2 separate regions of the Homo sapiens genome follow, and region 1 is linked to region 2. The links come from fine-mapping of genetic effects on gene expression. A gene starts in region 2. The other region holds a variant in brackets. All regions are shown on one strand. Distances are between the middles of the regions.

Region 1 (5,389 bases), 150 kb before region 2:
TAAGCTGGTTTAGCAAAGTACAGCTCAATCTAAACGATGCATTGGAAAGGAAACTCCACAAATCCAGTGATGTGACATTTGTCTACAACAGCAATCATAAGGGTAGTTTCATGACATCCAAGAATGCTTCCAGTTACTGAAGAAATCTTGCAAAATCATTTAAGGAATTTTCAAAGTATACTTAATTGCTTGTTATATATAATAATGACATAAAATGATATAAAATAAAATGAATAGGAACCATACTATGATTTCACCAGAGAAGTTGGGTGGTGTCATAAAGTTAAGCGATGAGATGTGATTGTAACTTTGAACAGGTTGGAAGTTATTTAAGTTCTCATGCTATTCAGGCCATTATGGAATGAAAATCATAAATGTTCAGGATATTGCAGATGCATTTACACTTGACAGGGTTTGACAGAAATGAGACACTTGTTAATAAGATTTATAAAGAGCTACTCCATCGACATTTTAAAAGTGAGTATGTTGGATTCCGCATTATAGTATTTATAAAGCTTTCCACACAACTGGGTAGAATTCTTTCTTTGCCTATCCCCACAGGAGACAGACAAGCTGGGTTCAAGCAAGCTGAGTTTCCTTGAGACATTAATTTCATGTGTCTGAGTTCTAGTTTCCTCTTCTGTAAAATGAAGATAATACCTGCCTGGTTGTACTATTTTGAGAATTAAATAAGGTAATGTACATAAAACACTCAGTACAGAGCTCTACACAGAACGAACACTCAATAGACCAGCCTGCACATTAGAATCACATGGAGAAATTTAATATCTACCACTGCCAGGGCCTCACTGCAAACCAACTGAAATCAGAAATGTATTAGGGAGCATATATTGGTATTATAAAAGCCCCCCACGAGATTATCACTGTAGCCAGGGTTGCAAACCATTGATCTAAGCTACCCATTTCCTCTACTAGTAGTTCTTAACCATGGCTGCACATTGACATCACCTGGGAAACTTAAAATACTGATGCCTGGGTTTCTGTTTCTGATTTAATTGATACAGCGCTGGGCTTGGGCATTGGGATTGTTATAAATTCTCCAGTTAATCCTAATATGCTGGAGGTTGAGAACCACTGAGAATCAGCAAGGAAAGACTTACTCTGTGTTTTTTGGTTGCATAGTGTGATTTTTTTTTCTTTTATAAATAATGTAATTTTCTGATCATACAAGTAATCCATGTCTTAGAAAATATGAAATGTAGAAAACAATGAAAAAAATAAAAAATAAAATTCATAATCTTACTACCCACATACAAACATTGTCAACAGTTTGGTTTGTTTCCTTCTTTCAATGCTAATTGTTTTGCATGGCTGGGCTCATGTTTTATACACATTATTTTTTTTTTTTCTTTTTCACCTTAATATTAGAAAACAAGTATTTTCCTTTTCTTAAAGAGACAATATTGGCTGGCTGCAGCGGCTCATGCCTGCGATCTCAATACTTGGGGAGGTTGAGGCGGGCAGAATGTTTGAGCTCAGGAGTTCAAGTCCAGCTTGGGCAACATGGCGAAACCCTGTCTCTACAAAAACATACAAAAAGTAGCTGGGTGTGTTGGCATGTGCCTGTAGTACCAGCTGCTCAGGAGGTTGAGGTAGGAGGATCACCTGAGCCAGGGAGGTTGAGGCTGCAGTGAGCCTTAATTATACCACTGCACTCCAGCCTGGGCGACGGAGTGAGACCTTGTCTCAGAAAAACAATACAAAACAAAACGAGAGAGAGAAAGAAACAGGATTTTACCCTGTCGTGCAGGCTGGAGTGAAATGGTGCAAACATCTTAATAGCTCACTGTAGCCTCGAACTCCTGGGCTCAAGCAATCCTCCTGACTCAACCTCCTGAGCAGCTGGGACTACAGGGGCATGCTAACATGCTCTGCTAATTTTTTTTTTAATTTCTTTTTTATCTTTTGAGACAAGTTCCTCTATGTTACTCAGGCTGGTCTTGCATTGCTGTTCTCAAGCTATCCTCCCGCTTCAGCCTTTCAAGTAGCTGGGATTACAGGGGTGAGCCACCACGCCCTGCTCCAGTGTAGGTATTTTCAATGTTACTTAATGGACATTTTAGGTATCATTTTAAATAAGTAGAATGTGTTTAAAAAGTCCCCTTTACATATTATTATTTCCTATATTTCAAAGATAGGTCTGGACAAGATATTTATGAACTTTTAGACAAGTTTTCCCTACCAAAATCTAATGTCCCTTCTGTTAGGGTAAGAAAAAGTAGAATCAAGCTTCTTGCTCAAGGAAGAACTGAAAAGGGCTGACAGTAGGCGTTGCTGCCTAACTTCTTATTTAGTACATATATCAATAATCTTCTATAAGTAAGTCATGACATTAGGTGCTGGGCACTGGGCTAAATAGTGATCTGAATGCTAGGCCAAGCTGAGACAGATTTCCCATATAGTCAAGGCAGGAAGAAGAGGAAGGACAGAATTTCCCAAAACCAAAGAAATAAATTCAAAAGTGGAGTCAAAGAGCAGCCAGACACAATAGATGTCAACCACTAAACTTGAGAAAACAGCAGAACTTTCCAGCCTCAGGCTCTGAAGGAGGAAAGTGGGAGCAGTGGCTTAATTGGAACCATTTTGCAAGGCAGAGAGGAGTTGGCACATACTG[G/T]TCTACAGAGTGAGTCTGGGAAGCTGAAGACAACATCTGCAGGGAAGATGACCTCGATGACACTTCATAGGATGTGGAAGCTGAGCAATACAGCTTAGATGACTTACTGGAAGTTCACCAGTAAAACTGGAGAAAGAGCCCAGTGTTTTGGGGACATCATAGAGTCTGGCTTGGAAAAATTTCTTTGACATCTGCCAATGAGGAGGCAGCAAAGCGTGAAATTAGGACATTTGTCTGGTTGCAGTTAGATTCCCGGGCACTCTGTATGGTGGGGATCCAAGTGCCCAATAGTGGAATGATTTTGAGGCAGTGCCTGGAATTAGAGTGAAACTCTTATGTCGGTTAACCTTTCCTGCCTTCATTAGCTCACATCCCTTCCACTCCTGAACGTGGACATCTGTTTCTTGCAATTCATAATTAATGGTCTATTATCTAGTATTGTTGCCTAATTTTTCAATGGATGTTAATCTTGTTACTAAAACAAAACTATAAACAAGGGGGGTGTGGAAGAGGGAAGGGGAACTTGTATTATATTTACAATAAAACTCAAATTTACCATAATCTCTGTCTCTGGTGTCTGCATCAGCCACACTGGCCCCTTCCCGTTCTCTAAGCATTCTACTGTCTTTCCTGTCTCAGGGCCTTTGCCCCGGATATTTCCTGTTTAGAATTCTCTTCTGTTTTGTTTTGTTTTTTTCCAACCACATGGCTGGCTTCTTCTCATCACTTAAGTGTTCCAGCATCCTAGAGAGGCCTTTCCAGACCATCCTACCAATGTTACTCCCCACATCTCTGTTTTCTCGATTACATCTTTCTATTCCCTTATCACAATGCGTGCATTCATTTATTCAGTAATTGTGCATTACCCTTCTACTGTGTGCTAGATATGGGCATACAATATTGGTCTTTGCCATCACAGAGCCTACACTTTGTGGGGGATGTAAACATTAATGAGACAAACATCACACAAATATTTGTAAATTACTAATTCTGTTAATGTCTACACATGAGAGCCCATGGAACTAACCTGAAAGTATTTCTGTATTTTAATTTGGATTTCTTTGTAGTTTGTTATCTTTCTGCCACTTGTATATTTGCTCCCTGAGGGCAGAGTCATTGCTTTCTGTCTGTTTCTGCACTGTGTTCTCAGAGCATGCATATTGTGGAGACTTAGTATATGTCATTGAATACGTGAATGCTAAGCATTTGCAGTGTTTTTTTTTTTTTTTTAAACTTTATGGTGTCCATCAGAACCTAGCATTATGCCTGTTTAATTGATTAACAACATTGAAGCTCAGATAACAAATTGGTCTCAGGTCATAAAGCTGGTGACAGAAGTGGAAACTGAACCTAGCTCTTTTTCCAAAAGTTATTGTTCTGTCTATTACACAGAAGGCATGAGAGAGGTGAAGAGCAAATTATTGTAAATTGTTTTACAATAATATAGAACCTAAAGTCATTGGTTAAGGTATTTTTACATGTTCTCCCCCATAAAATTGAAAACAAACAAAAAAAACCAAAAGGAAAAAAATCACCAGCATGCAAAAATATCCTACAACTTTATTTTCCATTGTAGGTCCAGCAAAATCTAAGGTCGCCAAGCATGCTGAAACATTTCTCAGTATTTGGTGATTGCAAAACTGGATTTCATTTGGATCTTAGATTTGGTACCAAAATGATAACTGGAGCCATCAAGAACAAAAGCTGTATGCTTGTGTGCCATTTGCTTTACTTGGCTAAAGAAAACCAGGTATAAAGGTACACACTCCCTTAACTCTTTCTACGCTCTAAGAAGCTCTTTGAAATGTGAAATTCCTACAGTGGTTTCTTTGTTTGTTATAACTTGAGTGATAGCAGGGAGAGGTAGGGGTGTGTGTGTATGTGTGTGTGTGCGCACGTGCACACGCATGCATGTGACTTCAGCTTTAGAGAAAAGAGGCAGGAGAATGAAAGAGAGAAAGGAGTTCAAGGAAAGCCAGAGAACAACTAAGAAGAAGATTTCTTGTCCAGATTCTTCAGTAACACACTGAACTCTACATAGAATGTCAGCCCATCACCTTCCTCTTCAGATCTGCTTACCTAGTTTGCTCCCTCTTCGTAGTTAAAGCTATTTTTAAGTTTCCAGTTCTCTGGGTAATGAAACTTTTTTTTTTTTTTTTTAGATGGAATCTTGCTCTGTTGCACAGGTTGGAGTGCAGTGGCATGATCTTAGCTCACTACAATCTCCATCTCCCAGGTTCAAGCCAGTCTCCTGCCTCAGCCTCCTGAGTAGCTGAGATTACAGGCATGTGCCACCACGCCAGGCTAATTTTGTATTTTTAGCAGAGACAGATTTCTCCATGTTGCTCAGGCTGGTCTCGAACTCCCAACCTCAGGTGATCCTCCCGCCTTGGCCTTCCAAAGTGCTGGGATTACAGGTGTGAACCACCACAGCAGGCCTGCATAATGATACTTCTATCTCCCCTTTTGTTTACTGACCCTACATACTGGTACATGAACCATGCAAGCACATAAGCTTACATGGATTCCCTTTTTTGGACTAGGAATAGGTGATTTTTAAAATTATCACATGCTATAGACATCTTTGTCAGCCTTTCAAAGACCAATCAAAACCAAACTTTTCCCCTAACTTAGTAAAAACATGTATATTTTAAGGAAAGTCGTCTCATATTTCTAACTCATTTACCCACAAACCATCAAAACAATAAAAATAAATTGCCAACTAAGAAACTCATTTGAGTTTATTAAAATATA
Region 2 (5,389 bases):
TTCTCTCTAAGGAAATGGCAGCTATTAGAAATGGAATGTGTTACATTTATGAGAAAGGGTCTTGTCTGAGAAGGTATACTGCTTCAGCACACACAGCAACAAATATTGTCATATATGAAGTATGATGCAGATGAAATAGCCCACGCTCCCATTTTATACCACGTTGTTCAGACATTTATTTATATACTGTAAAAATTCTGCATTCTACAATTAAATGACTTTGTAGAAGGCTTAGAGCAGACATACAAATCAATTAAGGGATTGCAAACATGCTGGAGAAATGTAAACATATTTTTTATATGTCAACTTAGGCTTTTTATATATTTAGTGAAAAGACCCACATAGAACTTGAAATAAGCTACAGCAACAATGATTTAGGCTAGATAGAAGAAAGGATGCCTGGGGGTGGTGCTGTAAAATTGCCTCTGAAAGTCATTGGTTGGGACAGTTTCATTATGATCATTTGAGTACAAGGATATAAATTAGAAAAGCTGTTTTCTAGCCCTATTTTTAAAGAAACATCAGATTAAAATTAATATAATTATTAGCATATGGATTGATTTTCTTGACATAAACATCAAATATAATAAAATAGTCATAAAGCAAGTTACTACTGTAAAGTGTTTATTGAAGGCATACTGATTTGATTTTTTTTTAAAGTTAGGATTTTTTTCCCCACATAATTAACATTGGTGACAGTTTTACCTTTTTTTTTTTTTTTTTTTAAATTAGAGGAACTGCAAATTTCTGTCTGCAAAGCACCCTTCTACTGGACATGTTCATACTTCATTATGCATAATTATTATGGGAGGGCAGGATGATGGGATAAAAAGGTATCTGAATTATGAATCAGGGCACTGTGGTTCTGCTGTCCTCTCTTCTATTAGCTAGAGGTGTGACCTTGGACAGGTCACTTTTAAATCCCATTTCTCAGCTTCTTGTAGACAACCTCAAGCCATTGTTAGAGGAGACCATCTCTTATGTTCTTTCCTTCTCTGAAATTCCATTTGGAGATTTTAATTAAATCATAATTTAGATAAGTCAGTATTTTATCTTCCACATATATAAAAAGTAGATTCTTTTTCTCATATTTAAGAAGTTTTAACACAAATTGTCAGTGAATAGTTAAAATTTATCAATATAAGTTATTCTAGCATAAAATTTGAGAATAGCTAATATAGCAGATGGTCACCTTGTACTATATAAAAACTTATAATGAAAACAGTTACTTCATTTCTTATGATCCAACTGTCAAAATAGCTCTCCATCTTTCACTTAGTATATTTTGTATTCATCTAATAGATTTGAAAATGTACATGAATATTTCTTCCCTTTATGTACCATTTTATTTCTATAAAATGATGAATTTTATTATAAATATTCAGAAATATAACAGTATCTTATGCATTATAAGTCCACACTTTTTCGGTCATTACTAAACTTCTTTTCTAATATATTGTACATTTAAACATTTAAGATTACCTTGAAGAGACTACAGTCAGGTGGAAATGTAATTTTACGATTACATAAGTAAGGACACAAACAGTTTCCATATGACTGGAGTGATTTCTGGCTGCCTTAAAAGAGTTATAATGAGTGTCAGTGTCATTGAGATTGACTTCAGTTATTCAAAATATTACACAAAATGTGACCGGAGCAAGCAGTGAATCCAGGAAAATTAATATAAACTAAATTCGATTCCGACATTTAAATTTCCAAAACTCAGATTAAATACTATTTAGGACAGAAATAATTCCTGAAATTTCACGTGTTTACTTTTTTTTTTTAAATGAACCTTTTAAGCTGTACAGGAGAAGCTTGACATATGATTGAAACTGGCTTGGGTAAAATAATAAGAAATTCAATCTTCGTAGTTTTAAATGAGACACAAAATACTCTTTGGAGACTGATTATTAAGCACAAGTCACTCGGGTGCTTTCTACTCTCCCTGTTGGCAAAGGAAGGTAGGGGAGGAATTCATTTACACCTCACACTGATGTGTGAGAAAATGTATTTGTTTCACGTTATGCCAAGAAATAGGAAAACTGATCCGACAGCTCAATTAATAAATAAGTTAAACGTAAAAAGGGATAAAAATAAAATCTTACTTTATGGAGGAAAAGAGTTAAATCTATATGGAGCCTGTTTTAGAACTGACAGTTTGCTAAAACGAATTGACTCAGAATTTTCTACTTATCAAACATTTTCCACTTCTGATTTTATGGCTTTGCTCTAAAACCTAGGAAGTCACCAACTCCGTGCAAGATGCTAACATTTATCTCAATCTTTCTGCCTCTTCAAAGACCGCCTCAAAGCATAAAGATAGTCCATAGCGTCTTACCTAGACAACGAGGAGCTGAAACGCCAAGGCATGACACTGCTCAACACTCAGGCTAGGAAAGAAGTCCGTCCCCGTTAGTTTCTCCAAAATCTAAGTTCCCATTTCGTGGTTGAGATCATGGCTCTATTCTGAGCAGTTTCACGCAGTGTGTGAGTCTAACAAAAACACCCTCTGCAGCTGGAGGGAGCCTTAGCTAAGGCAGGATCCTGTCAAGGCATTCCTAGTGACTTCTGTCTACTAAATTCAGACTGAGGTTTTGCAAAAGGGGCCTCCACAACCAGGCCCAGATTGCCTGGAAAGTATTTCCTGCCTCTGAGGAGTGTGCATGCTAGAAAGGCTGTACGAAGAGAGGGGAGGAGGGGAGAGCCCAGCCGCCTGGGCGTTTTAGGAGTTCTGATTTTACACAGAACTCAAGTGAGTTTTGTCAAAGCTCTTGAGGTGATTAGCTGTAGAGTCATAAAGTCCTAGAGCTTTTTCTATCCCACACTGCTTATGAAAAAAGAAAGAAAGAAAGAAAGAAAACGTAGTTTTCTCTCTATCCACAACCTTTCCACTATATTAAATGTATATGCACAGCTTAATCAAAATGCCTGTGCTTGCTCTCATTTCAAAAGATCTTTTAAGAGAGCAAGATGAATTTAGCCTTAATACCATAATTCTTCTAAATGGCAAAACCTTTTTTGAACATGACTTAAAATTGGAAATGCTGCAGCTTTTCATTCTGTCCCTGAGACCATCTGTAAGTAAAATCCCAAGCATCCAGTTAATAGAACGATTTCTTCCAGATCTCTCTGATCACAAGAATCCTTCACAGAATTAAAATAGTTCGTGTTATGGCAAATGCAGCAGCGCATTACCTCTAGTCAGAATCCTCCAGTTACAAAAATCCAGTGCTGGAGCAGAAGACAGGCTCCATCTTGATCGTATTAGAGTCTTGCTGACATTAAACACTTACAACTGCTTCCATCTAGCATGGCAGCGTTCCTGAATCACATCTCTAAAGCCGCTCATGGTATCTGCATCCTTCGTCCGTCACAAATTTTGTGAACTATCATCTGTTTATCTTTTCTGCTTTCTTGTGCCTCCCTTGAATGACTTCCTCCTAGCTGCTCCAGGTTGGGAATTTGGACTACCATTTGGTTTTGATTAAAACCAGACAGGCAACTCTGGAGAATTTAGGGAATAAGCTAATGGAAACTGCAAGTATGGCTTTAATTAGTGCATCAATTAATAATAGATGTTAGCTCGTCTTATAATAAGATATCACAAATACAAACACAGAGGAAGCTGAAGTCGTTTCAGGAAAAAAGTTACACCAATTTTCCTTCCTTTATGACCCAGAATCCTCTTTAGAGAATGTGGAAGGAAAGAAGAGGGAGGTGGTTTTGGGACATCCAGGCTGTGGAGAGGCCAGTAGAGCAGCTTCATTGTTTATACCAGGGAAGCAGGAAACAGCATCTCTGACTTTAATTATCTTGCTTGGTGGAAATGGCTCAGTCATGTCTCCCTTCTACTTTATTTACAATCAATGGATTTCGCTGCTATTTATGACTCAAGCATTTTTTTGGGGGGGGACTGATGATCAGATTAATTATTAGGTCTATCTGCTTCTTGCAAATTTCTAGAAGCTTTCAATAATAGGAAGTGCAAGAATAATTCCAGTTGGATGTGATAAAATGAGTAACATATAAAGAGGTAAAAGACATCTTAAACTTGTTGGCCCTAAGATCTATCCTGTTCTTCTCTGAAATTGTAAGTAGTTTTCATTGTTCACTGTTATTCTCCATCCCTGTATATCACAAGGGCTATCTTGTAGTACTTTTTGATAATATTGGGTAGGTGATAACTCAAAGATGCACAAGGTTCTAACTACTATTTTTTTCCTTATTAGGTAGCTAAAATCTCTCAAAGTTAATGCAAATCATGAACCATATTAGACCCATGTTAGATGGCAAGAATGACTTATACTGTGCATGAGTTTGAAGATGAGAAGTAGTCAAATAAAAACGTTTGGTCAGAAGCAGCTTTAAAAGTTTAGATCAAAGTCTTATTGACTAAAAACATGAGCATTTAGGTTTCTTTAATTTAATCTTCAACCATAGGCCAAGAAAGAAGTCTGTTCTTCCATAAATTCTTTAAAAAGTATTTATATTTATATTCAAAGTGTTTCTACTGACAGTATGCCTATTTAATCTTTCCAACAATTTTGCGTGTATTCATATGTTTTATTTTACAAATAAAGTATTGAGAAGCAATTTTCTCACAGTCAAATGATACAAAGTGCCCAGGTCCACACTGGAACTCAGATATTCTAGCTCCAAGCTTTGTGCTTTAATTTTTTCTCCATAAACTGCCTTCCTTGACTTCCACTTAATTTCTTTATTAAATTGGGAAGACTTCTTAAACTCTAATAGTTTCTCTTTAAAAATAGAGACAATTTCACATAACTTATAGATTGGAAAGCAGGATGAAATTTATATGCAGAAATATTTGTGTATTTATGTTTATTTCCCTAAGAAAAACACTGGAGAAGAAAGGAATGAGAACTGATATTATGTCTTTCCTAATATAACTTGATATCTCTATCTCTGTCACTGCCTTTAGTACTGATATACAGTGGTTACTCAATATTATATCAGCATCATGCTAATTCTTAGCTACATTTTATTCATGAATACTGTACCCCGCGCCATATACTTTAGTTTTGTTTCTATTTCTATTGGCTTGGGAAAACAAGAAAACTCTGTTCACAAATGCCTTTTAGATATCTAGAAACTCTTGTTAGTAAGTTTCTCATAAACATACCCTTTTCTACACAAAAAATACATTATGTTTTCTTCTATTAATAGGATTACTTCCCAAATCTTTAATTACTTATATTTATTTTTCATTGTTGAGTTGCTTGATTCCAAACAAATCTCAGATCTTATAGTCTTATAAAGGCTTTACCAAATATGAGTGTAAAGATAAATAGTGAGAAAACTTCCTAAGTACTTAGTATTGTGTCAGGAACACTGAAGGAGTTCAAAATATTTGTCCCCTTCTTTC

Which allele goes with the higher level. Positions count from the first base shown, and alleles are read on the strand shown. Sizes are in standard deviations (SD) of each study's normalised expression.
As copies of G replace T in region 1, the expression in fibroblasts of the gene that starts at base 2,591 in region 2 goes down (moderate effect, 0.48 SD a copy in GTEx).

Evidence for each region. PIP is the estimated chance that this variant, and not a neighbour inherited with it, causes the effect.
Region 1: its variant is fine-mapped to the expression of DLC1 in fibroblasts (GTEx, PIP above 0.99).

Annotation. Positions count from the first base shown.
Region 1 is chr8:13,359,523-13,364,911 of GRCh38, forward strand. The region is part of intron 4 of DLC1 (DLC1 Rho GTPase activating protein); the gene reads right to left. Among named protein-coding and RNA genes, the nearest start is that of DLC1, 150 kb to the right of the region's middle. The variant G/T (reference allele first, on the strand shown) is at 2,636.
Region 2 is chr8:13,512,261-13,517,649 of GRCh38, forward strand. It overlaps DLC1 (DLC1 Rho GTPase activating protein), which reads right to left and starts at 2,591. Exons shown (of 18, transcript NM_182643.3): 1 at 2,342-2,591.